Linked DNA regions of Homo sapiens. The protein of the gene in region 1 purifies or fractionates together with the protein of each later gene. This does not show direct contact. Each region holds a gene or a part of one and is shown on either strand. Other genes may lie near its edges.

Region 1 (3,745 bases):
ATTAGAATATATAATTACCCTGATAAACAGGATATAACCCTCTCAGTTAAAGCTAAAATGTACAAAGTTAGCAAGATTAAACAGTATCTTAGAAAAGGAGTTAAGGTTTGGAAAAAAGCCAACAAGGCTAACTCAGTAAGTGAGCAAAAGCCAGACAACATGGGTACCTGGCACTGTTTAAATCAACAAGATTCAAAATCGGCTTTCATCCAACCAGATACAGGTAAGTGGTTTCAGTGGCTGAGAGGCTCCCTGAAAAACCCTCTGCTGTAAGTAGAGTGTGGTAGTGAAGAGAAAAACAGTCTGGATTGTCTATGCAGTCGACCAAGATCCAACTATAAATGGACTTCCCATCAAGTTAGCAAAAATCATCCACTGTAAACTGTCGACAAATGTCAGTTCTAATTCCACTGTAGAGGTTTTTCCCTAGGTTGATGAAAGGCAAGAGAATGAACTAAGGAGCCAGCTGTGAATTCTTGATTGTTCTACTGTTGACTGATTTAGGTCACTCTAATGAGGTTTCCTTTCCACTGTTCAAGTTCATCCTATGGCAGCTTTGTCACTCAAAAGTTTCAGGGGAAAGGGGGGAAAATGAGTTCTTACAGTTCTGCTACTAAAAATTTTACAATTGTTATGTGAAAACTGAGTGCAATAACTCAAAGAGTATAACTGGACTGCTTGTAACACAATGGATATACGCTTGAGGAAATGGGTACCCTATTTTCCATAGTGTGATAGCTCACATTGCATGCCTGTATCAAAACATCTCATGTACCCCATATACACCTACTATGTACCCACAAAAATCAAAACACACACACACACACACACTTTGGGAGGCTGAAGCGAGCAGATCACTTGAGGCCAGGAGTTTGGGACAGGCCTGGCCAACATGGCAAAACTCTGTCTCTACTAAAAAAACACAAAAAATTAGCCAGGCATGGTGGTGCACACCTGTAATCCCAGTTATTCAGGAGGCTTGAGGCACAAGAATCGCTTGAACCATGGAGATGGAGGTTGCAGTGGGCCAAGATTGCACCACTGCACTCTAGCCTGGGCGACAGTGTGAGACTCTGTCTCAAAACATGCTGAATGACTAGTGTCATAATAAATGTAAATTGCCTTACTTTTTGAAAACAGACAGCTTTGTAAAATGGTACAACGGTTTGGAAAACAGTCTAGCAACTTCTTAAAAAGTTAAACATAATTACTATATAACCTACACGATTCCACAAATCTAAGAAACATGAAAATGTATGGTCACATAGAAACTTGTCCATGAATGTTCACAGCAGCATTATTCAGAACAGCCAAACAGTGCAAACCACTCAAATGTAAAACTGATGAAACGAGAAGCTATATAAAATATGAAATATGGCATATAGGTATACAATGGAATACTACTTGGTAATCAAAAGGGATGAAATGTACTGATGAATGCTACCACATGGAACCTTAAAAGTATAAAGTAAAAGAAGCCAGTCACAAAAGGCCACAAACTATATGATTCCATTATATAAAATGTCCAGGCTGGGCGGGGTTGCTCATGCCTGTAATCCTAGTACTTTGGGAGGCTAAGGTGGGTGGATCACGAGGTCAGGAGTCTGAGACCAGCCTGACCAATGTGTTTAAACACCATCTCTACTAAAAATACAAAAAAATTAGCTGGGTGTGGTGGCATGTGCCTGCAATCCCAGCTACTCAGGAGGCTGAGACAGGAGAATCCCTTGAATCTGGGAGGCGGAGCTTGCAGTGAGCCGAGATCATACCACTGCACTCCAGCCTGGGAGACAGAGCGAGACTCCGTCTAAAAAAAAAATAAAAAAATAAAAATAAAAAAATAAAAATAAAAGAAGTACAGCACAAGCATATCTATGGAAAGAAAATATAGTGGTTGCCTAGAATGAGACAGGTAAGTGGGAGGGATGGGGGACTGACTGCTAATGGGTACGGGGAAAGAATTCTGGAGCGATGAAAATGTTCTGGGTTTGACTTCTTACCTCTGTATGGAATTTGTTGTCACACAAATACAATGACGTATTAATTGGTTTGAAAGGTTCAAAGTCAATGTTGACTTTCTTTTCCTTTCCTTCTTCTGTTACAATTGTTCCACAGTATACAACCAGACCATTTGGAGGTACTGCAAAGAACACAAACAATTTTTCTACTTTACCCCATATCTAGTTTTTCGTCAATTAATAGAAAATGTTCCCATAGCCTATTTTCCCTGCCTGATCCTTTAAGTCATAATTTAAATAAAGCAGAAAAAGCTTGAAATCTCTCAGGCAGAACTCTCTCCCTAATTTTAAAACTTCTTCTGAGACGTTTCAGTACGATTTATTCTTTAAAGTAAACAGGCTGGACGTGGTGGTGGCTCACGCCTGTAATCCCAGCACTCTGGGAGGCCGAGGTAGGCGGATCACCTGACGTCAGGAATTCAAGACCAACCTGGCCAACATGGTGAAACCCCATCTCTACGAAAAATACAAAAAGTAGCCAGGCGTGGTGATGGGCACCTGTAGTCCCAGCTACTCGAGAGGCTGAGACGGAAGAATCACTTCAACCTGGGAGGCTTGTGGTGAGCTGAGATCGGATTACTGCACTTCAGTCTCTGGGTGACAGAGCAAGACTCTGTCTCATCCCAAAAAAAAAAAAAAAAAAAAAAATTGAGACAACGCCTCACTCTGTCACTCAGGCTAGTGTGCAGCAGCGAGATCGTGGCTCACTGCAACTCCCACCTCCCGGGTCCAGTTGATTCTCTCGCCTCAGCCTCCAGAGTAGATGGGACTACAGGTGTGTGCCACCAGGCCTGGCTAACTTTTGTATTTTTTGTAGAGACAGGGTTTCACACCATGTTGTCCAGGCTGGTCTCGAACTCCTGACCTCAAGTGATCCACCTGCCTCAGCTTCCCAAAGTGCTGGGATTACAGGCATGAGCCACTGTGCCTGGCCTACTTAACTTTCAATAAACAAAAAACAAAACAAAACAAAAAAGCTAACCACCAAGGCCAAAGAGACACTGATGACAGCCGACTTAAGGGAACATTAGTGAACAAAGCACCATAGCAGCATCACAGTATAAAACATAACCAAAATGTGTAGAGAAGGAAAAGGAGCAAACTCCAGATTACCTTTGTTATAAAGTTTGAGTCTTTGTTGTACAGATGTAATGGCTCCCAGGACTGAAAGGCGGTTTACTCGTGACTTAATGTTAGATGCAGTTCCAAACTCATCCGCTAACATTTTTGCCACTCGTGAAATCTGGTCTTTGGGAGGAATGATCAATGATATCATGCTGGTGCCATTGCTGTGGAAGAAAGAATAACTCATTAGGGATTTAAATATCATGTAAGTAAACTCATGTTTCTCTCTGGTAAAAGCAAGCTACAGGGAGATGCCCCAAAGTTATGGAAACAGGTCACTCTCAAAGGAGTAATGTAGGGACTATATTAGTCTTGTTTATGAACGTATACACAGAGTTAGGAACAGTGTTCAGAATCTAGTGCTCAATTTGATTGAATAGTGAGGTAAGTTATGTAAAGAATACACTTGGAGAGATACTTGAGAAACACCTCATTTCCTAAAGAAAGAAGCTATCTATGATAAATAAGGAGTGTCAACAGGCTGGAATTTGGTAGTGAATCTGTCCGTGGGAGAGCCTTCAAATGTGGTGGTTGAGTGGGAGACGCCATGACAGGATGATGCAATGAGTCTTTCCAAAGTCTAGGCATATTTGTAATCAAGA
Region 2 (3,745 bases), on another chromosome or scaffold:
GAATAAGATGCTGATGGACTAAGCCACGTTGCTTAGCTCTTCCGCCGCCACCTGTCAGGAGGGAGAAGGGCAGGAGGCGGTGAGAGGCTGCGACCTGAGCCCCACAGGTACCCAGCACACAGGACAGTGAGGGAGAGCCCGAGCTGCCCTCCCCGACTCTGATGAGGAAACTGAGGTCCCGCGGTGGTCCCCGGAGCAGACAGGATGGGGTAGGGTGGGGTGAGGAGCCACCCTGACTAGCAGTGAAGGGCACAGGCCAAGCTGGCCCTGAGGGCCTATGACCCCCACCAGGCACAGCACACATTTCCAGATACCACCCCTCCAGTGCAGCTCCCTGGGGAGAGCCCCCTCCCATCCTTCTCCTTGAGGCTGGGGTGGGGCCAGGCCTGCTCCAGGGGGGCTTGCCTTTTAATACTGGGACAGCCCCGTCACCCCGCCATGCTGGTAAGCCCGCTCTCCCTGGTACGTGGAGTCCTGTGAGAGCGCCACGTCGATTTGTGATTTAAACTCGTCACCAAGGTAACTGTCCTGAAAGACAAGGTCAGGAGGTAAGCAAGCCACAGGCCAAGGGTGCTCACATCCACCCAGCCCTCAGCAGCCCCAGAGAAAAGAATGGAAAACCCGTCCCCAAACTAAGACCCAGGAGACCCACTCTGATGACCCCAGCCCAGGGACAGGTAATTCAGACAGTGGACATGGGCCAGGCCAGCTCTCTGGGGCTCTTCAGAGGGAATGTTTCAGGTGCATAGCCCCACCCTCACTCAGGTAAGTCCCGTCCCAGGGGCGGGCTCACCTGGGACAGCTCCGGCTGGGAGAGGCCGGGCTGGCTCATCTGGGAAGGCTGGCTCATGGAGATGTAGCCCTGCGTCAGGGCGCCCTGAGAGAAGGGCTGTGACGCCACATCCTGGCTGGCTTGGCTGTTGGGGAGGTTAGTCTGGCTGGGTCCAGGAAGCCCAAAGCGGTTCTTCTGGCGTCCCCCACGACCAGTCTTGCCTTTCGGGGTGCCTCGCCCTGAAAGACAGCAGTCCAGGGTGATCCGAAGGAGGCCAGGGCCTCGCAGACAAGCACACCCTCAAGAGCTCTCAGGAGGGCCACACCCAGCCGCAGCCACAGATGCTCACCTGCAGCAGGCCCGTTGGCTTGTCCAAAATAGCCAGGCGGTGGCATGGGTGGCATGACCAGGTTGAAGGGGATGGGAATGTTCATGGCAGCCACGTGGCTAGGGCCGGCACTGATCATGCCAATCTGGTCATGGGTCTGGAAGTACATGCTGGAAGGCCGGCCTGCAAATCACAGTGGAACACGGCAGGTGTCACCTGCCTCGGTCAAACCCCAGCGATACCCCACCCACCCCACCAGCCAGTCAGCCGGAGCTGCACATCTGTCCTGGCTCTGCCCAGGCTGAAGATGCGGATTCGCAGGACTCCATGTTAACTACAGCAGCCTGCCTGGGGCTGGGTGCTTGGGCAGGCACCTTCCCCGAGGAGAGTCTGCTGGGAATCATTGGCCTACACAGATCTTAAAAACTGAAAATTGGGGCCGGGCGTGTTGGCTCAAGCCTATAATCCCAGCACTCTGGGAAGCCGAGGTGGACCACCTGAGATCAGGAGTTTGAGACCAGCCAGGCCAACATGGCGAAACCTCGTTTCTACTAAAAACACAAAAACTAGCCGGGCATGGTGGTGGGTGCTTGTAATCCCAGCTACTCGGGAGGCCAAGGCAGGAGAATCGCTTGAACCCAGAGGGGGAGGTTGCAGTGAGCCAAGATCACACCACTGTACTCCAGCTTGGGCAACAGAGCGAGACTCGGTCTCCAAAAAAAAAAAAAAAAAAAAAAACACCTGCAAATTGGCCAGGTGCAGTGACTCACGCCTGTAATCCCAGCACTTTGGGAGGCTGAGCAGAAGGACTGCTTGAGGCAGGAGTTTGAGACCAGCCTGGACAACATAGGGAGACCCTGTCTCTAAACAAAAAAAAGAAAATAAATGAAAATCACCCTGCATTTACCAAAGGAAAAAAAAAATCCTTTTTATGAAAATGTTCTATTTGTACTACATGCAGTCCCTGCCCTACCAAAAGGCAAGAAAAAGCTAACTAGCTTGATCACCAGGAAACACAAATGAATAAACTCTGGTTAAAGACAAACACCCCAGGAGTGTTCCGGGGCTAGAGATGCCCTAGGGGCGGGGAGGCCAAGGGAGCCAGGCACCGCCCTTGAGGGGAAGGAAAGATGGGGGCACCTAAAGCTGCAGCCATGGGAACGGCCAGCATCCCGGTGTGAGGACAAGGGGTCGGCCAGGTCCCCTGCTGAGCGACTCACCCTGGCTGCTCCGATCATAGACGGAGCCTGGGATGATGGCCTCCCGGGCATCATACATGGCTGTGGTCATGAAGCGGGCTCCCTGCGAAGGTTTAGATAGGTGAGGAATTTGTCATCTCAACAGAAGGAACAACTTCCCACGGGCCCGGTGGCCTGGGAGGTGGCAGGTATGCAGCTGTGAGGTGTTGACACTGTGCCAGGGGCTCTCCCTGGAGACAGGAGGGAGCTGCTGTCTCATGGCCTCTGGGTCTCGCCTGCCCTCCTCGGCAGACCTGGGCTCTGATGCTGACCCTTGGGCCTCAGCTCAGGAAGCTTCACACCCCCTCACTACCAGATCACCCCGGGCTTGCAAAGCTTCCAACTGCCCGTGTCCAAGGTCCCAGGCTGCTGCATGCAGCACAGCAGCCCTGAGCCCAATTCCCAGAGGCCACCCAGGACTTAGCGGCCCCAAGCCAAAAATGCCACACACGGCTCGGGAGACAAGAAGTGGGCTGGCCCACCCTCCCCTAGGAGAGCCCACCCTCCCCTAGGAGAGCCCTCCCTCAGCTCACGGGCACACGGGCCAAGCTGGCACGTTCCCAGCAGTGTTTTGGGCCCGGGTTTCTCCGTGCTGCCCTGCTGTCCTGTGCAGGCGCTCACCGGGTTGATAGTGTTGACCAGCTTCCGTGGCTTGCTGAACTGCATGAGGCTCTCACGCAGGTTGTTGAGCGGCCCCTCCACCAGCACCTTCTGCTCCTTATAGTAGTTCAGCAGGTGGTTCCAGAGCGGCTGCTTTGATAGTGCCTTCGGGTTGCCCACAATGATGACGCCATACCTGCAACAAGGGCGCAGTGCTGAGGACGCAGGTGGAGAGCTGCCCGTCTCACAGGACGGTCCAAGAGGCAAGGCTGCATTCACTCAGAACCCAAATCCAAGGCAACAGAGGCGTGGACCGGGCAGCAGGCAGGCTGCCAGCCACAGGGACAGGCCCCAAAGCCCAATGCCAAGCCACTGACCCTGCACACGGGTTGATTTTGTGGCCGACTCTAAGCAGCCCCATGGCAGACACCTGGCTGGGTGGATACGTTTGGAGAGAAGACCTGCTGTCAAGAGAGTCGGCCTTCCAGGCACCGGGGCACACGCGGCCCCACAGGGCCCCCAGCAGGCCGGGGCACTGACCCGATGCCCAGCTCCTCTAGCCCACCTCACGAAGCTGTGGGGGGACCCACCCAATACTGCCCACCAAACAAGAGGGCGCCTTAGAAAGAGGGAGTAACCAATGACAAAGCCATGGTGACCTAGAGGAGAACCACCGCGCATATGAGCCGGAAGGAGCACCAGGCTCTCTCCCTGTGCTGGGTGGAGCCACAGGCCAGGTCCCCCCAACTTCCAGCTGGTGAATGGGTCCTTGCTGTCTAGTGTTTTTTTTTTTCCTTTGGAGACAGA

What was found. Proteins that work in one complex are often made in the same cells at the same time.
Region 2: the proteins of ETF1 (region 1) and UPF1 purify together in Homo sapiens (affinity purification with western blotting; 2 studies listed by BioGRID and IntAct, with this or other methods). This does not show direct contact.

Annotation. Positions count from the first base shown.
Region 1 is NC_000005.10:138,515,561-138,519,305, forward strand, and holds part of ETF1 (eukaryotic peptide chain release factor subunit 1), read right to left. Parts: intron 3,308-3,745; coding exon 3,132-3,307; intron 2,141-3,131; coding exon 2,001-2,140; intron 1-2,000. UniProt on the Homo sapiens protein: Component of the eRF1-eRF3-GTP ternary complex, a ternary complex that mediates translation termination in response to the termination codons. The eRF1-eRF3-GTP complex binds to a stop codon in the ribosomal A-site.
Region 2 is NC_000019.10:18,862,827-18,866,571, reverse strand, and holds part of UPF1 (regulator of nonsense transcripts 1), read right to left. Parts: intron 3,135-3,745; coding exon 2,960-3,134; intron 2,403-2,959; coding exon 2,321-2,402; intron 1,284-2,320; coding exon 1,122-1,283; intron 1,012-1,121; coding exon 794-1,011; intron 529-793; coding exon 409-528; 3' UTR 406-408; intron 52-405; 3' UTR 1-51. UniProt on the Homo sapiens protein: RNA-dependent helicase required for nonsense-mediated decay (NMD) of aberrant mRNAs containing premature stop codons and modulates the expression level of normal mRNAs.